Linked DNA regions of Homo sapiens. The protein of the gene in region 6 purifies or fractionates together with the protein of the main gene of each other region. This does not show direct contact. Each region holds a gene or a part of one and is shown on either strand. Other genes may lie near its edges.

The links.
Region 1: the proteins of CLN5 (region 6) and SLC25A13 purify together in Homo sapiens (affinity purification with mass spectrometry, with the first as the bait; one large-scale study listed by BioGRID). This does not show direct contact.
Region 2: the proteins of CLN5 (region 6) and HMGCS1 purify together in Homo sapiens (affinity purification with mass spectrometry, with the first as the bait; one large-scale study listed by BioGRID). This does not show direct contact.
Region 3: the proteins of CLN5 (region 6) and ARHGAP36 purify together in Homo sapiens (affinity purification with mass spectrometry, with the first as the bait; one large-scale study listed by BioGRID). This does not show direct contact.
Region 4: the proteins of CLN5 (region 6) and CALU purify together in Homo sapiens (affinity purification with mass spectrometry, with the first as the bait; one large-scale study listed by BioGRID). This does not show direct contact.
Region 5: the proteins of CLN5 (region 6) and ARF4 purify together in Homo sapiens (affinity purification with mass spectrometry, with the first as the bait; one large-scale study listed by BioGRID). This does not show direct contact.
Region 7: the proteins of CLN5 (region 6) and CLN3 purify together in Homo sapiens (co-immunoprecipitation; one study listed by IntAct). This does not show direct contact.

Annotation. Positions count from the first base shown.
Region 1 is NC_000007.14:96,315,599-96,319,098, forward strand, and holds part of SLC25A13 (electrogenic aspartate/glutamate antiporter SLC25A13, mitochondrial), read right to left. Parts: intron 1-3,500. UniProt on the Homo sapiens protein: Mitochondrial electrogenic aspartate/glutamate antiporter that favors efflux of aspartate and entry of glutamate and proton within the mitochondria as part of the malate-aspartate shuttle.
Region 2 is NC_000005.10:43,296,413-43,299,912, reverse strand, and holds part of HMGCS1 (hydroxymethylglutaryl-CoA synthase, cytoplasmic), read left to right. Parts: intron 1-937; 5' UTR 938-947; coding exon 948-1,395; intron 1,396-1,778; coding exon 1,779-1,904; intron 1,905-2,746; coding exon 2,747-2,911; intron 2,912-3,500. UniProt on the Homo sapiens protein: Catalyzes the condensation of acetyl-CoA with acetoacetyl-CoA to form HMG-CoA, which is converted by HMG-CoA reductase (HMGCR) into mevalonate, a precursor for cholesterol synthesis.
Region 3 is NC_000023.11:131,064,846-131,068,345, reverse strand, and holds part of ARHGAP36 (rho GTPase-activating protein 36 isoform 1 precursor), read right to left. Parts: intron 1-3,500. UniProt on the Homo sapiens protein: GTPase activator for the Rho-type GTPases by converting them to an inactive GDP-bound state.
Region 4 is NC_000007.14:128,759,859-128,763,358, reverse strand, and holds part of CALU (calumenin isoform a precursor), read right to left. Parts: intron 1-3,500. UniProt on the Homo sapiens protein: Involved in regulation of vitamin K-dependent carboxylation of multiple N-terminal glutamate residues. Seems to inhibit gamma-carboxylase GGCX. Binds 7 calcium ions with a low affinity.
Region 5 is NC_000003.12:57,587,345-57,590,844, forward strand, and holds part of ARF4 (ADP-ribosylation factor 4), read right to left. Parts: intron 1-3,500.
Region 6 is NC_000013.11:76,995,081-76,998,580, reverse strand, and holds part of CLN5 (bis(monoacylglycero)phosphate synthase CLN5), read right to left. Parts: coding exon 3,353-3,500; intron 2,680-3,352; coding exon 2,454-2,679; intron 539-2,453; coding exon of another isoform or gene 510-538; exon of another isoform or gene 496-509; intron 1-495. UniProt on the Homo sapiens protein: Exhibits palmitoyl protein thioesterase (S-depalmitoylation) activity in vitro and most likely plays a role in protein S-depalmitoylation.
Region 7 is NC_000016.10:28,485,575-28,489,074, forward strand, and holds part of CLN3 (battenin), read right to left. Parts: intron 3,089-3,500; coding exon 3,017-3,088; intron 2,168-3,016; coding exon 2,088-2,167; intron 1,968-2,087; coding exon 1,882-1,967; intron 1,077-1,881; coding exon 1,004-1,076; intron 917-1,003; coding exon 773-916; intron 1-772.

The DNA.
Region 1 (3,500 bases), on a different chromosome or scaffold from region 6:
AAGGCCATCCAGCTCCAACAAGATAAGAACCCCTAAAACCCAAACAGTGGAGCCATAGATATTTGTTTTAATAATCATCATCATGGTAGCATAAAAACAACTCAAACCTTCTTTCCTCCATTCCTAGCACAAAAACTGATTTGTTTTATTATGATATCACCAAATACTTAGTAGAGTTTTTACATAGGGGAGAAAAAACCCTGCCATTTGAAGAATATCTTTAATAACCTCAATATATTTTATCCTCAATGACAAACCTCTGAAGAGGGTTTTATGATGGGTGAACAATGTGGAAGACATGGAGGTTAAATATACAGCCCAAAGCCTGGGCGACATAGCAAGACCCCCGTCTCTACAAAAAAAAAAAAAATTTTAATTAGCTGGGTGTGGTGGTGTGTGCCTGAGGTCCTAGCTATTCAGGAGGCTGCGGTGGGAGGATCTCTTGTATCCACGAGGTCTAGGCTAGAGTGAGCAATAATCACACCACTGCACTTCCACCTGGGTGAGAGAGTGAGACCCTGTCCCAAATATATATATATATATTATAGTCCAAATCCTAATGGAAACTGGATTAAAGGTATATGACAGTGGTGACAGTTACACAACTCTGTGCATATATTGAAAACCAATAAATCATATGCTTTAAATGGGTAAATTGTATAGTACTTGAATTATATCTCAATAAAGCAATTAAATAAAAGGTATATGACAATTCCTGTCCTGCAGGGATTTGCGATCTGGTTGGAGAGATGAGAAATACACTTAATAAACACTGAAATGAAGCATATACAGAGTGACAAAGGTGTTCTAAGATAAGAACTACTGGACTGGGATGATCAGGAAATATACACATCCATACCCGATGGCATGTGAACTCTCACACATACACCTTCGCAAATGGAACTCTTGGTAAGACCTGGGAGAGCAGCGCAGAGGTTAAGAGCAGAGACTCTGAAGACACATTGGCAAGGTTCAAATCAAGACTGTAGCACTTACCTGTTGCACAAGCGTGAGAAATTACTTAACCTCCCCTAACTCAGTTTTCTCACCTGTAAGTTGAAGTCAAAAACAGAAAGCACCTACTTCTTAGAATTAAGAAAATTAATTGAGTTACTATTTGTAAGGCTCTTGGAAAAGTACCTGGCATGCAAAAAGCACTAGGTAAGGCAGTTCTCAAATAAAAGTCTGGTTTACACTGAGACACCTACCCCTCTCCTAAGTCATCTCCCACACCTCTCCCATATACTTTATTCTCCACCACACTAAACTACCAGGCACACATGGTGGACAGAGTGAGGCCACAGCTGCTGGAGCCAGACTGGCAGGATTTGAACCCCAGCTCGATAATTTCCTAATTATCCGATCTTTTTTATTTTATTTTATTTTTTTGAGACAGAGTCTTGCTCTGTCACCCAGGCTGGAGTGCAATGGCACGACGTCAGCTCACTGCAACCTCCGCCTCCCAGGTTGAAGCAAATTCCCCTACCTCAGCCTCCCGAGCAGCTGAGATTACAAGAATGCACCACTATGCCCGGCTAATTGTTTCCTATTTTTAGTAGAGATGGGCCAGACTGGCCAGGCTGGTCTCAAATTCCTGACCTGAGGTGATTCACCTGCCTCGGCCTCCCAAGGTGCTGGGATTATAGGTGTGAGCCACCGTACCCAGCCATACTTATCAGATCTTAGGCCACTAACATCACCTCTTGGTATCTCAGAGCCTTCATCTATAAAAAAAGGATGATAGTAACTAACTCAAAAGGCTGAGGCATTAAATGAATCAACAACGAAACACAGTTGGAACTGAATTTTAAATGAATCAACAATGAAACACATTTGGAACTGAATTTGGTATCTAGTAAGCGCTCAGTAAGTGTCAGCTGCTTTTAGTTTTTATTACCTGCTGTTAACTAAATGTAGCCTGTGCTCTCACCTCCCAGCCCTTCATTTGTTTCCAACCACTGGATTGGATCTTTACTCTTCCCCATCCATTCCTTCTGAAATACTAGCAATTTTCAGAAGACTTCCCTCATCTCCTCAGAAATGGGCTCTTCTCCTACTGCTCCCACAAACCTTGTAGTGGGAGCATTTCCATCAGAGAACTTAGCCCCCTGGAATGGTTTTGGTTTTCTTGAACATCAAAATGGAGTCCAATTCATTTTATTTATTTTATTCTATTTTATTTTATTTTATTATTTTATTTTACTTTATTTTATTTTTTTTTGAGACAGGATCTCGTTCTGTAACCCAAGCTGGAGTACAGTGGTGCTATCTCAGCTCACTGCAACCTCTGCCTTCTGGGCTCAAGTGATCCTCCTGCCTTAGCCTCCCAAGTAGCCGGGACCACAGATGCGTGCCACCATGCCCAGCTAACAATTCATTTTAGTATTCTCAATTTTGTCCCATTTGCAACACTGGAAAGAACACAATACACATAAATGAATCAATGATCACAGCAACAACTCATCCAAGAATGAAAAGTCAATACAAAGTGTACTAGTCCTACAGACCAAATTGTCTTTATTATTAATGCTTTAATGTGCCCCCAAATTTCCTTCTTTTGGTTCTAGGCTAATATTGGTCTGTGTTCAGTTTTACCCCAGAACATCTCACAGGTCTGAACTCAAGGGAGCATATTCTAACTTTTAGTAGGTTCATATAGGTTAATTACATCATTCGTAACGCATAAATTTAACCAATGACGAAGAAGAAAGCTCTCCTTTAACCAAGAAAAGGGCAGAGACGAAGAAAAGGGTGACCTCTCAATTACCACCTTTTAAAACTGTTTTTTTATGGCAGTTTTGGGAAATGTTTAAAAGAAATATTCAAACAACGCAAACAGTACAGGCAGATCTAACAAGGGAACCCACAAGGATTATTCCTACAAACGTAGGCAGCAAGAGAATGGACACTTTTTGAGATAATCTCAGAATACTAAGAGTTTTAGATTAATGTTCATTCACGAAAGAAAACAAACACTTCTTGAACCATTAACTAGTAATCTTCATAGCAAAATTCAAAATAAAAAGCAGCCAAAGACTAGATTCTCCATCTCCCCATTAAAACTATTTAAAGGAAGGTCATGAATAATTAGCTGTATTTAAATAAGTATAAAGACCAAAGAAAGAAACAGATCAGAAAACTAATTGCTAGTTGTGGCTACATCTATCCAGAAAATACCAAATCTGCTTAAATATTCAAACAATTTGTCACAGTGAGTGTAGTGAGTGTTGGAATTCTCACAGTTGCTGAGTCCCCAGAGTCTCAGCCCAATTTCCTAACAGTCCATTGAGGTGAAGTCCTCTCCTATCCAGGCTCCTCAACTTTTAAGAGGGAATGCCAACCCTACCCCTATGGCTCTGTGTTCAGCTGGCAACATGGAATAGCTATGCTCCAGGGAAAAAGCAAGGAGCACAGCCTTTAACTCAGGCTGCCAACAGAATCAACCGATAAAGGTGATGCCCAAAGGCAGTTCAATAAGGGACATTCTTGGAATAAGTTAG
Region 2 (3,500 bases), on a different chromosome or scaffold from region 6:
CATTAAAACTCCCCTCTGTTTGAAATATCTATAGTAATTTTTCTTTTCCTGACTAATACAACCTGTTAAAGAAGCTGAAGCTCTGGTAAGTTAAATGCCCAACAATGGTCTTGAGTAGCTAGTGATTTTTGTTGCTATTGGTAAGTAAATCTAGACACTACTTTTTAGTCCCTTTTTTAAAAGAGGACTGGTTTATCTATGATGAATACATGATTGATTGATTGATTGATTGATTGATTTTTACTTTTTCTTTTTTTTTTTTTGAGACGGAGTCTTGCTCTGTCACCCAGGCTGGAGTGCAGTAACATGATCTCTGCTCACTGCAAGCTCCTCCTCCCGGGTTCACGCCATTCTCCTGCCTCAGCCTCCTGAGTAGCTGGGGCTACAGGCATCTGCCACCACGCCCGGCTAATTCTTTTGTATTTTTAGTAGAGACGGGGTTTCACCATGTTAGCCAGGATGGTCTCGATCTCCTGACCTTGTGATCCGCCTGCCTCAGCCTCCCAAAGTGCTGAGATTACAGGCATGAGCCACCACGCCCGGCCTAATTTATTAAAACTTTCGGGTGGTCAGGTAATTCTGATTTGTCAGCCATATTTCTAAATTATCATTGTATTTTATCTTACAGTTCTTTACAATGTAGAAAATCTTATTTGAGTGTTGTTTACCTCTAATAATCATGTTTTAAATCTAGAGATGCCCAATTTTGAATAAAATGGAAGCCTTTCTAAAAGACTATAATTTTAAATGATAATATTCCATTCATATAATAATTGCTACTTCACATGTACACAATTGAGTGCCCTAAATACTAAACTTAAAGAAACTAATACTTCAGGTGATTGCTAAACTCTTAATATCTATTTCTCAATTTCAAAGTTGAAAACCAGCAACTTATAACCTAAAACAATTTTTTTTCTGTTTCTCCTTTCTAAAGCTCTTTCACCATGCCTGGATCACTTCCTTTGAATGCAGAAGCTTGCTGGCCAAAAGATGTGGGAATTGTTGCCCTTGAGATCTATTTTCCTTCTCAATATGTTGATCAAGCAGAGTTGGAAAAATATGATGGTGTAGATGCTGGAAAGTATACCATTGGCTTGGGCCAGGCCAAGATGGGCTTCTGCACAGATAGAGAAGATATTAACTCTCTTTGCATGACTGTGGTTCAGAATCTTATGGAGAGAAATAACCTTTCCTATGATTGCATTGGGCGGCTGGAAGTTGGAACAGAGACAATCATCGACAAATCAAAGTCTGTGAAGACTAATTTGATGCAGCTGTTTGAAGAGTCTGGGAATACAGATATAGAAGGAATCGACACAACTAATGCATGCTATGGAGGCACAGCTGCTGTCTTCAATGCTGTTAACTGGATTGAGTCCAGCTCTTGGGATGGTATGTTACATGCCTATTCCCCGCCGTCCCCCAAAATTTTTTTCTAAGGTTCAATAGACCCAGATGACACTTTAATTAATGCAATACGCAAACTTTTGTAATTTGTCCTTGTTTGGATATATTAAGAAAGATATTTTACCTGTCTGTCATTATCCGAATTGTGAATTGGTTATCTTATCTTGTAGGACAAATGGTCTATTCAAAATTTAGTCAGATGGATGACAGAGCCTTGGCAGATGAATTTTAAAAAAAAATTAGAGCATTTTCTTTCTTTATCAAAGAAGGGAAAAGCATATTCTGGGGAAAATATAACAGACTTCAGTTTCCATGTTTGGTTATAGTGTTGAATTCCTTCTTGTGAAATAACAAAAAATATTTTTCAGGACGGTATGCCCTGGTAGTTGCAGGAGATATTGCTGTATATGCCACAGGAAATGCTAGACCTACAGGTGGAGTTGGAGCAGTAGCTCTGCTAATTGGGCCAAATGCTCCTTTAATTTTTGAACGAGGTAAGTGCTTGGGAAAGCATTTTTGTTTTTTTTAGCACAATATGCTGAGAAATTTGAAAATAGAAGTAGGAGCTGTCGCTTACTTAATGGTCATTAAATGCAGGTACTACTTGCTAAGAGCTTTATGTGTGTTATCATATTTATGTTTTTTTTTCTTTTTTTTTTTTTTTGAGACCGAGTTTCACTCTTGTTGCCCAAGCTGGAGTGCAATGGCACGATCTCGGCTCACTGCAACCTCTGCCCCCAGGTTCAAGTGATTCTCCTGCCTCAGCCTCCTGAGTAGCTGGGATTGCAGGCACACACCACCATGCCTGGCTAATTTTTTGTATTTTTAGTAACAGGGTTTCACCATGTTAGCCAGGCTGGCATCGAATTCCTGACCTCAGGTGATCCGCCCCCCTCAACCTCCCAAAGTGCTGGGATTACAGGCGTAAGCCACCATGCCTGGCCTGTATTTAATCTTCATAGCAGTTTTATGAGGTAGGTGGTGTCATCCCCACTTTACAGAGAAGTGGGTTAATGTAGGGTTCAAATGATAAATAGTAACTTGCTGATAGTCACTGGCAATTTTAATTTGTCTTCAGTGTAGTAGAGTAACTGTGAACTGTTAGAGTTATGAAACTGACATGGAAAGTTGTATACCAAAGGAGTCTTAGGACTGTCCATGGATACTGTTATGTATCATTTCACTTATATTGGCTTCAGCTTGCGATTTCTCTACTGTAAGTGGTGAGAATTGATCAGATAGTTAAGGAAGGTCCTTAGATAATGCAGTATACTTATTAACATACAGACATCAAGAAGCAGAAATATATAGACATCTTCCTTTTTGGTTCTAATAGGGCTTCGTGGGACACATATGCAACATGCCTATGATTTTTACAAGCCTGATATGCTATCTGAATATCCTATAGTAGATGGAAAACTCTCCATACAGTGCTACCTCAGTGCATTAGACCGCTGCTATTCTGTCTACTGCAAAAAGATCCATGCCCAGTGGCAGAAAGGTAAGTTTTACCCATTTTCCTTGGTTTTGGTATGAGTTGAGAGCAGTCTAATGTACTAGGTATCTTTGGTAGGCAACTACTTTGTGGGCATTCTTCATTTAATATCCTTTTACCATTAATTCCTCATTCACCAAACAACATTTTCCCATAGTTTCTGGGAAAGTGTAATTTACTAGAAGAGGTAAACTTTGGAACTGAGGTGTATCTCTGCAAAAATATTTAGGTCGGTTTACCCCTTGTAAGAAAATCAAAGTGGAGAAAAGAAGGTAAGTTGAATTTTGTTCATCTTTTGAGAGAGGTATTTTAACAAGGTTTTGGACTACAGCTGTGATTCAGGGAAAGCTAATGAAAATGAATTACTAAAGTGATCTTACCCCAAAAATAATCTTTTTGCACTTGACCTGTGAATTTGTATTTGTTTTTTTACTGTTATCATTAATCTGGAAATTTGTTGAGGCACTGAAAGGACAGTATTTGAGTTAATGCTATCATAACACATTATTACATAAAGTATACTTTTTCTGTAGTCCAACTTTGCTTTTTAGAGGTTATGAGAAGGGGTTAAAAATCATATTCAATGACAAATATC
Region 3 (3,500 bases), on a different chromosome or scaffold from region 6:
CCTCCTTTTTTCCCCTCCTCTCCTCCTCGCCCCCTTCTCTTCCGCCCAAAGGGAAGGCGGGGGCGGGCTGTGTATGTATGTATGTATGCATGTAAGCGTGTGTGCGCGCGCGCGGGTGCGGTAGATCTGTGTGTGCGTTCGGTGTGTGGCCGGGTGTGGGGGGTGTGTGCGCGGAGCACGTTTTAGCTGGAGTGCTTGGTGTGGTGTGTATTTGGTTTGCGCTTTGACATGCAGCATGTGTTTGTGTGTGCACGCTTATAGGTTGTATGTTTCTGCCCGATTATAGTGGGATTATGTGGGTGCGGTTTGAAGGTGGGTGTGTGCTGTTCCTGCCGGGGTTTGTGGTCGTGCTGTGGTGAGTGTATATGTGTGTGCAATGTGTGGATGTGTGTGTGCCCGTTGAAGCTTGTGTGCATATGTGTGGAGTGTGTTTATGCTTAGATGCAGTGTGTCAATGTGGGTTTACAGGTGGTGTCTGTTGAACTGTGTAGTGTGTGAATGTGTGCGTGTGCAAGATTTCTCTATAAGTCAATCTACTTGAGATGTGTGTTCAAAGGTTTATGCATGTGAGGGTGCGGTGTGTGTCTTTTGGTGTGATGTTCTCATGTGTGTGGTGTGGACGCATGTGGTCAGCTTACGTGCTTGGATGAAGGGGTTGTGTGTGTCTTGAAGGGGGATTGCCGCGTAAGTGTATGGGTGCGGTGTGTGAGAGTACAGGGTTGTCTAAAAGAACCCAAGTGACCGTGTGTGTGGTTGGGGGCGGGGACGAGTGGGACGTTGGGCTGGGACTGAGAGAAGAAAGGAAGTAGGGGCCGCGACCCCGGCAGGGGTTCCCGCTGGTCTGATCTTCACCGTGGGGGTTCGCCTGCCCGCCCACCTCTGTGTCGGCAAGGCCCGCTGGGGCAGGGTGTGAATGTACCTGGCTGCTTAAAGGAAAGAAGAGGAGGGCACCGCACGTGATTGGCCAGGTAGGGCGCCTAGGGCGCGATACAGGGGCTGGTGGGAGTAAGCTGGAAAGATTCTTGGTCTCTGACCTGACACCCCTCCCCCGCCCAGGAGATCCCAGCTGGTGCCTAGCTGAGCCCAACTATTTGCTCAGGGCCTGGCTGTTTCACACCTTTTTGGCTTTGTGTGGGCAGATCCAGTTGCCTGGAAGCCCTTTCCCCTTGGGCCTTGTGACAAACTCCTACTTATTTTTTTTAAACCTAACTCCAGAATCACAAAACTTTCTCTGCTCTTCTGTACTTTTCCCTCTCAACTGAGGGCTCGCTTCTTTGAGCCACCACAATTACACCCTTCATACTTCTCATGCCATGATCATACATAACTGCAATCATTTCTTTCCCTTTTTAAACTCTGAACGGCTGTAGAGAATACCTGGTATGTAGCAAGGATAGTTGTAATAATAATAATAATGTTGCCATTTGTTAAGTACCTACTGTGTACTGGGCATTGTGCTAAGTGTTCTGACATGCATTATCTCCTTGGGTCCTTACAATGATCCTGTAAGGTAGACAGAGCTATAATTATTGCTATTTTTACACTTCATACATCAGGCTCAGAGTAGTTAAGTAATTTCCCCAAGATCACACAGACCCTAGGAGGCTGAGCTGGTATTTGAACTCAGGTCTACCATATTTCCTAAACCTGTATTACATACCAGGTGGCTTTACTAAGAGTCCCCTGATTCCTGCTAGACATTGAAGTTTCTATCAAACATTATCATTTCTCTACAAATCTTTCTTTTGAGTTTACTGACAGCACCAAGAGTACTCATCATAATTACTGTCTTTGTCTCCCAGACAGCGGATACTTTCTCCACCTAATTACCTGCTTTGTTGATACTTCAAAATCTGTAATTACTCTAGGCACAAGTGCACCTCACTAGCTCCAGTTCTGGGAGCTCTCCGTAGGCTGGTGCTGAAAGAAAGAGTTGAAAATGAACATTTTCTAGCCACAGGGTCAGGGGATTTGGGTATGGAGGGAAATGGAGGTGAAGAATCAGGGTGGAGTAACAGAATGATTTCACAGCTCCCCCAGACCCATTTTTACAATATCACTACCAGAAGTTGGTATATGGCGAATTTCAAATAGAGCAAGCATCTGCATACCAAACTGCATGTAGAAAAACAAGCAGAGCCTCTCCCTCAGAAAAGATTACTGAATGGACCCCATTTTATATTATTCATGAGTCGGGGGGCACTGCACTTGCCTAATGGGGCTCATGCTGCTCTAATGCCTTCCAAGCAGCCTCATCTGAGAAACCCAAATTAAAGCAATACATCGCATTTTGGGGAACACATTTATGGGGGGGCATGATGTCATCCCAGTCACAGCTAAAGGGCCTCTGGAAGCTCTAGCTCCCAGCTTAGCCCCCAGGGAACCAGCCTAGACTGCTGCAAAGAGGTCAGGGGGTGGATAGAGAGGGACAATTCAACAGTGGTGAGTCACTTCGCCACTTTTCAGGGGGAAAGTGAGAAGCACGATTTAAATTGCCACTGTTATTATTGTGCCCTTTCATCTGGCACAAATGAGCCTGGTGCGTGGATGAAAAGCAGTTGGAACATCCATAAAGCTTCCCCCCAGCTGGGCCTGGGTCAGCACCTCATCCTGGGTGGGCACAGAAAGCATTGCCTAAAGTATTATGTAGCCAGAAAGTATCCTTTGGAGGGGGAAAGGGAGCCTAAATACGTCAGTCTTACTCAGGCAGGGCATAGACCACCTGAAGCCCCTTGGTTTCATTAAACTTAAATCCATACAAGGTGTTCAGGCAAACTTTGGTATCTCCCAGCATCTGGTCTCAGATGCTCAGCTTTCCTGCTGCTGTGGGGCCAATCTGACACCTCCTCATTCTCCTCTGAATATACTGGCTTCACTTCCACCTCCTCACAGCTGTTCATGTGAGGCCTCTCTTCCTCAGAGGTTCTGCCCCTGCTTCTCAACACCAGCACACACACATACGCACAAATGCATAAACACATCGCTAGACTACCCATCTAAATCCTGTTGTGTAAGTTCCACTTTGGTTCATAAAGACCATCTGGTTCACTCCAGCTCAGTGTTCCTGCCTGTGCAATGGAAGACAAACTTCAACTCTGAAGAAGCCAAAAGCTCCAGGCTATGTCTCCAAAGATGCAGTCCTGGGCCAGGGGCTATTAGAATAATTGAAAGCTATCCTTCTCTAATGCCCCCCACCCATATAATTGGGGCAATAAGAGGGGCTATCAGAATCCCTATCAATATGCCACCACCATGGGATGGACACACAGACACGCAGACACACACACACACACACACACACACAAACACACACACACTTCCTTGGAGCTTAAAATCGCTGTCATAAGTCTCTCTCTCTCTTTGGAGTTCAGAAAATGTGTTCCCATAACATGAAGATTATATGGGGAATTGTAAAGGTGAAAATGCTTTACTAACTCCCATTACTGTCCAATATAAACAGAGATTTGTTTGATTTCACCCTAAATATAAGAATCTGGAGG
Region 4 (3,500 bases), on a different chromosome or scaffold from region 6:
CGGGGTTTCACCAGGTTGGTCAGGCTGGTGTCTAACTCCTGACCTTGTGATCCGCCCACCTCAGCCTCCCAAAGTGTTGGGATTACAGGCATGAGCCACCATGCTCGGCCGAATTTCTATTTTTAAAAGACTCAGTCTATTTGATGATTTGAAGGTATTATTAATTTTCTTGGGTTGACATTATCTTTAAAAAAATGTTTTTAGAAACACATATATATTTTAGACATATATACCTCAATGTTTACAGATGAAATGACATAATGATTGGGATTTACTTCAAAGTAAGAAGGAAGCAAGGAAGTGGATGTGGCTGAGAAAAAACTGGCTGTAAGTTGATTGTTGTTGAGGTTAGGCATAGGTACATGGGGATTCATTATACTATTCTAATTTGGGGGCAGGTGCAGTGGCTCACACTTGTAATCCCAGCACTTTGGGAGGCTAAGGTGGTCAGATCACTTGAGGCCAGGAGTTCAAGATCACCCTGGCCAACATGGTGAAACCCCGCCTCTATTAAAAATACAAAAATTAGCCAGGTGTGGTGGTGCATGCCTGTAATCCCAACTACTCAGGAGGCTGAGGCACAAGAATCGCCTGAACCTGGGAGGCAGAGATTGTAGTGAGTGGAGATCACGCCACTGCACTCCAGCCTGGGTGACAGAGCAAGACTGTCTCAAAAAAAACATAAATAAATAAACAAATAAGTTGTGTACGTCTGCAATGCTCTATAATAAATTTTAAAAATAAAAATAATTATCAGCACAACTTTGGGTGTTTTTTTTTTTCTTTCCCTATGTTTCCACAGGCACTGATGGGGCTTCTTTTTAATGCTAAATTTATGAGGCGAAGAACTTTGTTTCTTCATGATCTCCTTCAACAGGGCACTAGAAGCTGAAAGATACTGTTTGGGAGAATTTTAGATTTACAAAGCCCAGCATCCCAGATGTAAAAGTGTTTGCATTAGTTACTGACTTGTAAAAAAAAAAAAAAAAAGCACACATGCACAAGATAGTTTTGGTAGCTTCAAAATATAACTCCTCTGCCCTTGAATCTATATGATACACAGGGAGACAGAAATATCTCCTTATTTGGCCTCAATGCTTGATAAGTGATGTAGTTAACAGTTATAAAAATTCCTCTCCTTGGGAGGTTCAAATGAGTTCCTCAGTTTTAGCAATGGCAATAAAATGGCAAAAGCCAAGAATAAAAAGATAAATCATTTAAAAGTAGAAAACCCTAGTAACATCAACGTGGGCTCAGTAAATGCACCTAGGCACTTATCCACTGTCCTGATAAACTTCTCCAAAAAAAAAAAAAATCAGTTTAGGAAAACATCCATCCTATCTTCCATTGCTCATCCTTCTTTAAAAAGTTCAAAGTATGCCACTGAACCTAAGAAAAGGGAGGTAAACAGTCAAGGAGTAATTCAATTGGAATAACTCTAGCATGTAAACAACAGGTATGATAAGACAACATCTAAGTAAAGCAGTGACTTGCTCCATACAGTTTAATGACAGGTGATAGAGGTAAGGATTAAGTCTTCCTTTCAGGCTTCAAATAAACATTTCAGGTAACTATCAGAGGTCTAAAAACAAACGGGCTTATCTGAAACACAAAACCAATGGTGTGCTAGAATAAGTTATTACAAATGACAATAAGTATGTGAAATATTAAAATATCTAATATCTTTCTAAACAAAGTATTTGTAACAATGACATTTGTAGTAACAGTCTTATACTTTCCATCTTTACTCACTTTTCTAAAGAGATGGAGTCTCGCTATGTTGCTCAGGTTGGAGTACAATTGCTATCCACAGGCACAACCTCACTACTAATCAGCACAGTTTTGACCTGCTCTGATTCTGTCCCGGGCCGGTTCACTCCTCCTTAGGCAACCTGGTGATCCTCTGCTCCCAGGAGGTCACCATATTGATGATGAACTTGTGACTATAGTCCAGACTCTTGGACTCAAGTGATCCTCCTGCCTCAGCCTCCCAAGTAACCGGGTATGCCACCACACCCAGCTCCTTTACTCATTTTAATTTCTGTCACAGTAATTGGGAAACAATTTGCTCAACTACTTGGTAAGAAAGACAGCTTTTTTTTTTTAAAGCAATGAGAATATCTTAAAATTAGTCTGATGATAATAAAACAGAGCTTTACTTGGGAGAAATTAGCCTTGAAGGTGTGACATCCAAAACAATTTTTTTAAAAAAATTTAGACAACTAAAAAGGGAAATGTCAAAAGGGAGAAACTTAAAAAACAAAAGGAAAGTAGTCAGAGAATCAGAGAGAAAATATGAACAGAACACAGTAAAAAGGAATGGCTACAAGAGGGATCAGCAACTCCCCGTCATTTATTTATCCATCTTTTAATCTATTCCCTATCTCCTTTCCCTGGGTTTCCCTATGTCAGTCTGGGCTCCCTGCAACTCTTTTTTTTGTTTGTTTGTTTGAGACGGAGTCTCGCTCTGTAGCCCCGGCTGGAGTGCAGTGGCATGATCTCAGCTTACTGCAAGCTCTGCCTCCTGGGTTCATGCCATTCTCCTGCCTCAGCGTCCCCAGTAGCTGGGACTACAGGCGCCTGCCACTACACCCGGCTAATTTTTTGTATTTTTAGTAGAGACAGGGTTTCACTGTGTTAGCCAGGATGGTCTCGATCTCCTGACCTTGTGATCCGCCCGCCTCGGCCTCCCAAAGTGCTGGGATTACAGGCGTGAGCCACCGTGCCCAGCCCCCTGCAACTCTTTACCATCAGTTCCATAGAGCATGCAGGATACACTATATCTGTGCTGTTGAGGATGGTAGCCACAGGTGCTTATTAAGCACTTGAAATGTGGCTGGGATGTGCTTTAAGTATTAAAAAAAAACCCTCAATAATTTACATTAAGTGGAAATTATAGAGTTTTAGAATATTAGGTTAAATAACTACTGAAATTTCATCTGTTTCTTTTTACTTTTTAATGTGGCTATTAGAAAAGTTAAAATTACATATGGGGCTCACATTTATATTTTGATTGGGCAATGTGGCTACGGATACTTTATCACAACCCACTATCACACTGGTCTGGTTAATGATCTGGTGACAGCTAATGAGCTAGTGAGAATTGACCCTTGGAGTAAATTGTTTCTATGGGCAAATACATCTTTCTTTCTTTCTTTTTTTGAGACAGTTTCACTCTTGTTGCCCAGGCTGGAGTGCAATGGCGTGTTCTCGGCTCACTGCAACCTCCGCCTCCTGGGTTCAAGCGATTCTTCTGCCTCAGCCTCCTGAGTAGCTGGGATTACAGGCGCCCGCCACCACACCCAACTAATTTTTTTGTATTTTTAGTAGAGACGGGGTTTCCCCATGTTGGCCAGGCTGGACTTGGACTCCTGACCTCAGGTGATCTGCCCGCCTCGGCCTCCCAGTGTTGGGATTACAGGCATGAGCCACTGTGCCCAGCCAGCAAATACACCTTTCAAAGCTTCTCAGCTTTTCTAAGAAAAACACTAAAAGCAGAG
Region 5 (3,500 bases), on a different chromosome or scaffold from region 6:
AAATCCAAAAATACTGACAAAGAAAAGAATTGAAGAAATCCAAGACAAATCATGACTATATCATTTTAAATTATACAAAAGCATGTAGGTAATCCAAGTTTTCTTTTAATAGGTTTTATATGTGCTTGTATGAATACTGTATGAATAATTATTTTCCTTGCTCCTCTACTGATAGGAATTTTTTTTTACCCAAAAATCATGTATTACTTTTATGAAAAGAGAAAAAAAATTGTCCAAGCAGATTTTTTTTAATTAAAATGTTGGGCTGTTTACATTTCCTGATGTATCTTTTTGAAGACGACTGCTTGAGGGCTTTAAATATATAATATTTTACATACTCATTTTACTTTTTTAAAAAGGGAAGTGTTTACAAAATCATGCAACCATTTCTAGGTCACCCCAGAATTCAAGGGGAAAAAATAATGCGCCCATAATGACTTTTAAGTATCCACAAATTATTTTCTAAATATAAATTACAAGACAACAGTTTAATGGCTCACAGCAACACAGAATGTATCTTATGCAGTTGTATCAAAAATAACAATGCTGTATAAATGCAAATTAAGAGTTTTTGAAAAAGGTATTTATAAGCTTTAATGCACGAATTAAACATATACAGTCATCACTTAAAACTTATAGTTCTTTACTCAAAAACATATTGGTCCAACAATTTTGAGCCACTTCAGTCATTTCTTATGTATTTCCTTAATGTTGCAATATTTGGCAATGAAATTTCTCCACAAAATGAAAACTATTACCAATTTTCAACTAGCCAAGATAAGACTAATCTGTATAGCCCAGCAATGGTCTCCCTCCCCTCCGTGTCCAGAAACAAGCAACTGTATTTAAAGATGTACTGGAATACTTGTTCTCCTTAACTAGACCTGCACTTTGACCAAAGTGTTACTATAGCAGGAAAACTACCTCAGAAATCTTTGCTGGCCAGGCAGTCACTCACACCTGTAATCCTAGCACTTTGGGAGGCTGAGGCAGGCGGATCGCTTGAGCCCAGGAGTTTGAAACCAGCCTGGTCAACATAGCGAGATCCATCTTTAAAGAAGAAAAAGTAAATTAGCTGGGAAGCTGTGCATGGTGGCTCACACCTGTAATCCCAGCATGTTGGGAGGCTGAGGCAGGTGGATGACCTGAGCTCAGGAGTTTGTGACCAGCCTGGACAACATGGCAAAACCCTGTCACTACAAAAAATACAAAAATTAGCCAGGTGTGAGTGGGGCACAGTGGCTCACACCTGTAATCCCAGCACTTTGGGAAGCCAAGGCGGGTGGATCACCTGAAGTCAGGAGTCAGAGACCAGCCTGACCAACATGGAGAAAGCCCGTCTCTACTCACACCTGTAATCCCAGCATGTTGGGAGGCTGAGGCAGGTGGATGACCTGAGCTCAGGAGTTTGTGACCAGCCTGGACAACATGGCAAAACCCTGTCACTACAAAAAATACAAAAATTAGCCAGGTGTGAGTGAGGCACAGTGGCTCACACCTGTAATCCCAGCACTTTGGGAAGCCAAGGCAGGTGGATCACCTGAAGTCAGGAATTAGAGACCAGCCTGACCAACATGGAGAAAGCCCGTCTCTACTAAAAATACAAAATTAGCTGGGTGTAGTGGCACATGCCTGTAATCCCAGCTACTCGGGAGGCTGAGGCAGGAGAATTGCTTGAACCTGAGAGGCGGAGGTCGCAGTGAGCTGAGATCGCGCCATTACACTCCAACCTGGGCAACAGGAGCAAAACTCCGTCTCAAAAAAAAAAAAAAATTAGCCGGTTGTGATGGCACATGCCTGTAGTCCCAGCTACTGGGTGAGGCTGAGATGGGAGGATCACTTGACCCCAGGAGGTCAAGGCTGCAGTGAGCTGTGATCGCACCACTGTGCTTCAGCCTGGGCAACAGAATTGAGACCCTGTCTCAAAACAAACAAAAATTAGGCAGGGTGGTGCCCATCTATATTCCCAGCTACGTGGGAGGCTGAGGCAGGAGGATCCCTTGAGCCCAGGGGATCAAGGCTGCAGCGAGCCATGATCACACCACTGCAATTCAGCGTAAGCAACAGAGCAAGATCCTGTCTCAAACAAACAAGGCCGGGCCCCGTGGCTCACACCTGTAATCCCAGCACTTTGGGAGGCTGAAGTGGGTGGATCACGAGGTCAGCAGTTCGCGACCAGCCTGGCCAACGTGGTGAAACCCAGTCTCTACTAAAAATACAAAAATTAGCTAGGCGTGGTGGCTGGCGCCTGTAAACCCAGCTACTTGGGAGGCTGAGGCAGGAGAATCGCTTGAACCCGGGAGGTGGAGGTTACAGTGAGCCCATACCGCGCCACGGCACTCCAGCCTGGGCAACAAAGCGAGACTCCGTCTCAAAAAAACAAACAAAAAACCCAAAAAAACAAACCTTTGCCCATAATTATGGCAGCAAGAAATACTTACATTTTAAATTTAAAAAGTTAGATCCAGCCGGGCACGGTGGCTCACACCTGAAATCCCAGCACTTTAGGAGGCCGAGGAGGGTGGATCATGAGGCCAGGAGTTTGAAACCAGCCTGGCCAACATGGTGAAACCCCATCTCTACTAAAAATACAAAAATTAGCCAGGCATGGTGGCGGGCGCCTGTAATCCCAGCTACTCGGGAGGCTGAGGCAGGAGAATTGCTTGAACCCGGGAGGTGGAGGCGCAGTGAGTCGAGATCATGCCACTGCACTCCAGCCTGGGCAACAGACCAAGACTCTGTCTCAATAAATAAATAAATAAATAAATAAATAAATAAATAAATAAATAAAACAAAAAACAAAAAAAGAACATCTATAAAAAACCTACAGCTAGTATCATAATTAGTGATGAAAAATTGAGGCCGGGTGCAGTGGCTCACACCTGTAATCCCAGCACTTTGGGAGGCTGAGGTGGATGGATCATGAGGTCAGGAGTTTGAGACCAGCCTGGCCAAGATGGTGAAACCCTGTCTCTACTAAAAAATACAAAAATTAGCCGGGCGCAGTGGCGGGTGCCTGTAATCCCAGCTACTTGGGAGGCTGAGGCAGGAGAATCGCTTGAACCCGGGAGGCGGAGTCTGTAGTGAGCCGAGATTGCGCCACTGCACTCTAGCCTAGGCAACAAAGCAAGACTCCGTCTCAAAAAAAGAAAAAAGTTAGATCCAATGATCTCAACTTTGAGGGAGAAAAAAATATTGCAGAAAGGAGTAAGACTGGAAAGACAAAAGAGTATTTTCAGATGGATAAAAAGATTTTTCATGTTTTCCTTTATCTTTCAAATTATCTACAAGTTTGAAATATACCTTCATAATTATAAGTGTGTGTGTGTACATATATATACATTTGTTTTTTGAGACAGGGTCTCGATCTGTCACCCAGCCTGGAGTGCAGTGGTGCAAACATGGCTCACTGTAGCCTCAAACTCCTGGGCTCCAGCAATCCTCCCACCTCAGCCTCCCTAGTAGCTGGGTCTACAGGGGCACGCCACCATGCCCAGCTA
Region 6 (3,500 bases):
AAGAGCTATACAAATAGGAAGCATGATTACTTCCTCAAGTCCTGGGGTTCACTGAATAATTATTGTCACAACAGTGCTTTCATTTCAGATGTTTCTACTGTTCTGGGGAACAGCAATTTATAATGTAATGCTTCATAAATCATATGGACAAGCTCCTTACTTCTCAAATGCTATGGTATATTGTCTCCATTTTGCACATGAGGCAACGGGCCAATAAGATATAAAATGTGACCCAAGTCACATAAGGAGTTACCAATGAAAGGATTGCTGAACTCTTTTCATTACTAACCAACAATGCAGCACTTGCAACACAATTCCAACTTTCAGCAACTTTCCAATACATCCAAAAGAAGAAAAAAATCTCAAAGATAAAATATTTAAACTGCTCAAGAGGGTCTCAAATATAAGATCATATACATTTTGGGAGGCAATGTATCAAAGTAGTTAGGAGAATGGGCAATGGGGCGTAACTGCCAGGGTTGGAGTCCCACTTACTAAGCTGTGTAACTTTAACCTCTCTGTGCCTCAGTTTCTCCATCTGTAAAATAGGCAAAATAATAGTTACTACCTCCAGAAGTTGTGATGATGAATGATGTGATGTATGTACAGTACTCAGAACAGTGCCAGAACCAGTCTATATTAGTAGCTATTATTTTTCAACATAAAAATATCATCACTAAAATTTTTTTCAGATATAGTTAACATATCCTTTAATCAGGCATTTTATGGATTTCTCTTACTATTTCGTTTAGAAAGACCAATTTAATTGTACAAAATGTTTTATCATTTTATTCATTTTTATGATGGGAAAAGAGCATTTTTAGGGAAACATTCAAAGATCAGAGATAAGCTACTCATCACCAACAGGTGAAGTTCTGCATGAGTAATAGTTTGGGTCAGAGTTTAGTGGTTCCACCAAAAGCAAATGCAACAAAAACAAATATAAATAGATGAGACTTAATTAAACTAAAAAGCTTCTGCACAGCCAAAGGAACAATCAGCAGAGTAAATAGACAACCCACAGAGTGGGAGAAAATCTTTGCAATCTATACATCTGACAAAGGACTAATATCCAGAATCTACAAGGAACTCAAATCAGCAAGAAAAAAACAATCCCATCAAAAAGTGGGTTAACGGCCGGGAGTGGTGGCTCACACCTTTAATCCCAGCACTTTGGGAGGCCAAGGTGGGCAGATGACCTGAGGTCAGGAGTTTGAGACCAGCTGGCCAACATGGCGAAACCCCATCTCTACTAAAAATACAAAAATTAGCTTGGCATGGTGGCGGGCGCCTGTAATCCCAGCTACTTGGGACGCTAAGGCTGGAGAATCGCTTGAACCCAAGAGGTGGAGGTTGCAGCAAGCTGAGATTGTGTCATTGCACTCCAGCCTGAGCGACAAGAATAAAACTCCACCTCAAACAAACAAACAACAACAACAAAAAGGCGGGGTGGGGGTGGCTAAGGACACAAATAGACAATTCTCAGAAGATATACAAATGGCCAAGAAACATGAAAATGCTCAGGGAAATGCAATGATCAGGGAAATGCAAATCAAAACCACAATGTAATACCGCCTCACTCCTGCAAGAATGGCCATAATCAAAAAATAAAAAAAAATAGATATTGGCGGGATGTGGGGGAAAGGGAACACTTCTTCTCTGCTGCTAGGAATGTAAATTAGTACAACCACTATGGAAAACAGTGTGGAGATTCCTTAAAGAACTAAAAGTAGAACTGCCATTTGATCCAGCAATCCCAGTACTGGGTATCTACCCAAAGGAAGAGAACTCATTATACGCAAAAAATACTTTCCCATGCATGTTTATAGCAGCACAATTTGCAACTGCAAAAATATGGAACCAGCTCAAATGCCCATCAATCAATGAGTGGATAAAGAAAATGTGGTGTATATATACCAAGGAATAATACTACTCAGCCATAAAAAGGAATGAAATAATGGCATTTGCAGCAACCTGGAATAATGGTCTCCAATTCCATCCAAGTGAAGTAACTCTTCAGGAATAGAAAACCAAACATTGTGTATTCTCACTTGTAAGTGGGAGCTAAGCTATGAGGATGCAAAGGCATAAGAATGATTAACTTTGGGAAGTCGGGGAAAAGGGTCGGAGAGGGGTGAGGGATAAAAGACTATACATTGGGTACAGTGTACACTGCTCGGGTGATGGGTGCGCAAAAATCTCAGAAATCACCACTAAAGAACTTATTCATGTAACTTAACATAACCAGTTCCCCACAAACCTATTCAAATAAAATAAATAAAAAATACAAATAAGAGATGAAAAAAATTCCCAAAGTTTAATGGTTCCAAAAGTACATTTTACAAATGACCTCTAAGTAAAACATTACTGAAATGTTTCAATGGAAGTATAACAATTTCTTTCATTTGGTTTTTGATGCAATGATCAAATATTGCTATATTTTCACAACTTACCTGATATAGTTGCTACTTGAACTAATGTCCCATTTTCCTTCCAGTGAACATCATCAATTCCCTCAAAAAAGCAGGCAGCGCCTTGATTACACCAGAAAGGGGCATCCATTTCAGGTCGGAGATGGGGAAATGTACAGTTGCCAAGTTGGAAAAGTTCATACCATTCCATTGTGTAGTTCTTGCCAGTTAATGTACTTCTGAATCCAATGGCATCATGCATAATTTTCTGTGTAAAGACAGTACATGTATAAAAGCAACTGTGACACAACCATGGGTCCAGGTAACCTGATAGGAGAAAATGTGGCACATCACAAATGCATATCAAGTAGAACAACTGTTCAGCTGTTCTTCCATGCTGCTACTGTCATATCCACTCTGTGGCCCCAAACTCCAGGCCCTCATCCACCCCAGCTTTGGCCACTACACCCCTATTTGGCTCATCTCAAATAGGAGGCCTGCATGTTATGTGGACAAGCTGATAATTTCCTTAGAGCTTAGAATAAGTGTGAGGAGCCCCCATGCCAGTCTCTGGAAGCAGCTCTACAGACCTCACATGGTGATGGGTTAACCTGGAAAAGTGACTACAACAGAGTATGGAAATCAAGAGGTGTTACCTGCCTGCCCTGCCACTTCTGGGCCTCTTCTCACCTTCCAGGAGCTAGGTACAGGAGCTGGTTTCAGATTCATAATATTACAATGGATAATGGTGATTACATTTGTTGTTGTCAAGATTACAAAATCTGATAGTAACTATTTTTGACTACTCATTTTAAATGTACTAAGACAAACACCAACATGATCTAAAGTCAGCCATCTAAATAGTGATTACTCCTTAAAAATCAACTTAATAACCAAATCATTGAATTAACCAAAGTTATAAGACCAAGATGCATCCTTACCAAGTGTCCCAGGAGGTCTCCATATTTAAATTCCCATACTGGGGCTTGTAATCGAAAAACTTCAATGTCATCATCACCCTCCATAACTGGGATAGGTGAGCCAGTTGGACAGAAAGTATACTTAGCTTGACAATAAGGATCAGGTTTT
Region 7 (3,500 bases), on a different chromosome or scaffold from region 6:
AAAAAAAAAAAAAAAAAAAAAAAAAGGGAGTCGCCATGGTTCAGGCCTGTTGCCCTGGCACTCAGGCAGGCAAGGCTACACATTCGAGGCCAACCTGGTCAACACTGATTAAAAAAAAAAAAAAAAAAAAAAGGAACTAATCAAATAAAGTCCACCCTCATCCTACTTCTAATCACCTTGGGAACCACACTGTGCTGAATGCATTACCCTCATCACCTCCAAGGAAAGCAAGAACAACTGCCATTTGAGATATGGGGAAACTGAGGGTTCAGAGAGGTGGAGTAACTTGTTCAACGCTACAAAGCTAAAAAGTGGCAGCTCCAGGACTCACACCTGGGGCTATCAGAGTCCAGATTCCGCCTCCCTTCACAGCAAGGTAGGGACTTGAAGATTGCAATCATAATCAAGTTTTCTTTTCTTTCTTTTTTTTTTTTTCTTCCTGAGACAGAGTCTAACTCTGTCGCCCGGGCTGGAGTGCAATGGCACGATCTCGGCTCACTGCCACCACTGCCTCCGGGGTTCAAGCGATTCTCCTGCCTTAGCCTCCTGAGTAGTTGGGACTACAGGCACCCGCCACCACACCTGGCTAATTGTTGTATTTTTAGTAGAGACGGGGTTTCACCATGTTGGCCAGGCTGGTTTCCTGACCTTAGGCGATCTGCCCTCCTTGGCCTCCCAAAGTGCTGGGATTACAGGCGTGAGCCACCACACCCAGCCATGGCCAAGTTTTCTCTCCTTGGACCCCTCTCCCTCCCGGCTCAGGGCAGCTCACCTGGCCAGCAGCAGGGCAGGGATACCCAGCATGGACAGCAGGGTCTGCTGAGGGGAGAGGCCGGCCTGGGTGAGGCCCAGGTAGGACAGGGCCCCCAGCAGCCCAGCTCCCCCAGTCCCTGAGGACCACCAGGAGATCACGGCCCTGGGAAGGAGAACACAGGAACATTCAGGAGGACCTAGGCTGACCATGGGACAGCCTCTCCCCACACTCCCTGCTCCACCTGCTTACCTGGGGTAGAAGGCAGTGAGGGAGAGGAAGGTGACCTCCCCAAGGCCTGATGAGATGCTAGCGAAGACCACACCTGGGGGGAGGACAAGCACTGGGATGGTCACACCACACCTTGCCACACTGCCCAGGCCTCTAATGTGTCTGGCCATGGCCTCCTCAGTATCAGCTCATAGAGGCTCCAATAGATCCCATGCATAGGCCAGGTTCCAGGTCTGAAGCAGAGCCCCACTCCCCTGCGTGTCCCTTCATGGAGAGTGGCACCTCCATCCACCCAGTTATCAGACCAGGGGCAGACATGCACCCTTGATGTCTCTGCCCCTTCATCAGTCTTTTTCTTTTCTTTTCTTTTTGGAGACGGAGTCTCGCCCTGTCACCCAGGCTGGAGTACAGTGGCGTGATCTCGGCTCACTGCAACCTCTGCCTCCCAGGTTCAAGAGATTCTCCTGCCTCAGCCTCCCGAGTAGCTGGGATTACAGGCTCCTGCCACCACACCCAGCTAATTTTTGTATTTTTGGTAGAGACGGGGTTTCTCCATGTTGGCCAGGCTGGTTTCGAACTCCTGACCTCAGGTGATCTGCCTGCCTTGGCTTTCCAAAGTGCTGGGATTATAGGCATGAGTCACTGTGCCTGGTCCATCACAGAGTCTTGACTTTGTTCACCTCAATCTCCATCTAATTCATCCATTTTCTCCCATCTCCTCCACTGCCTACCCCTCCAAATTGTCCCAGTCTCCCATCGCCTACTGCTGATAGCCCTAGCAGGCTTCTAAGGGTGACAGAATGAATCCCTTTCCTCTGGGAGGCTGGGGAGACTCTTCCCACAAATGCTCTGATGTGGTTCCTCGGGGCTCCCCATCTGACACAGAACCACACACTCACCACACAGGCTGGTCCCCACAGAATGAGAAAAGGCAACCAGGACGAAGCTTCCAGCAGCACAAATCCCACTGACGAGAACCCGGGGGCTGAGGGGGTGAGAAGGGAAGGGAGGGGGAAGGTCGGTCTCTACTCTCAGCATCTCAGCCATCCCAGCCTCCCCTTTCTCAGCTCCTGCCCACCCTGCCTCCCACTACCCTCACCCAGACCTGTAGGGCAGCAGGTGAAGGCCAAGAGGAGCCAACAATTTGATGACGAGTGTGGGGAGGATGTCCGCCAGGAGCACAGCCTGGGACAGGAGAATAGAGTGAGACCGCAGAGCTTCCAGGGGACAACCCTCCCAACCACGTGGCCAAGGAGAGGCAGGAGCTGGCCAAACAGGCCTGCTACAAACACAGGCTCTGGAGTCAGGCACGCCTGGGTTCAAGTCTCAGCTCTCCCACTCCTTAGTTGTGTGTCAAGAGTTTATACTCTCTGAGCTTCAGTTTCCTCATCTGGAAAATGGGAATATCATAGCACCTAGCTCACAGGACTGCTGTGTGGCTTAAATGAGCTAATATATGGTGCAGACAGAAAGGACTCAGAAACTATATATATATATATTTTGAGAGTGAGTCTCATTCTGCCACCCAGGCTGGAGTGTAGTGGCTCGATCTTGGCTCACTACAACCTCCACCTCCTGGGTTCAAGTGATTCTCCTGCCTCAGCCTCCTGAGTAGCTGGGATTACAGGCGTGCACCACCATGCCTGGCTAATTTTTGTATTTTTAGTACAGATGGGGTTTCACCATGTTGGCCAGGCTGGTCTTGAACTCCTGGTCTCAAGTGATCCATCCGCCTCAGCCTCAGAAATTATATTAAGGTCTCAATTATTTTATATATATATATTTTTTAATTTTTTTCTTTAAGATGGGGGTCTCACTATACTGCCCAGGCTGGTCTCAAACTCCTAGGCTCAAGTGATCCTCCCACCTTGGTCTCCCAAAGTGCTGGGATTACAAGTGTGAGCCAGTGCGCCCAGCCCAGGTCTCAACTGTTTTAATCATGACAGTCCCAGCTGGGTAGTGAAGGGCTGGGAGTGGGGTCTATAGACCCAGGGGCCCTGGGTCAGGCAAGGACCAGGTGAGATGAGTACGCACAGCCGTAGAGACAGAGTTGCAGTCAAATCGTGATGAGCTGTTGTGGGGGATCGGCGTTGGGCCTGGGTCCACCTAATGGGAGAAAAGCATGTCTTTCACCCTGGAGGCAGAGGGATAGACACACAGAGCCTGGCTCCCGTCCCAGCTCTGCCTTCACTTGAAGGATGGCTTTGGGTCAGCAGTGACTGACTTCTCAGGACCTCAGCGTCTCTGCATGCACAATGAAGAGGGGGTTTCCATATGAGTCTCACACTACTAGACCACAGGCCACAGATGGCCCTGTAAATGGACTTTGTTTAGATAACACATTCAAGAGCTTTCTTTTTTTTGAGATGGTGTCTCACTCTGTTGCCCAAGCTAGAGTGCAGTGGTGTGATCTTGGCTCATTGCAACTTCCACCTCCTGGCTTCAAGCAATTCTCCTGCCTCAGCCTCCTGAATAGCTCAGACTACAGGTGTGTGCCACCACACCCAGGTAGTTTTTG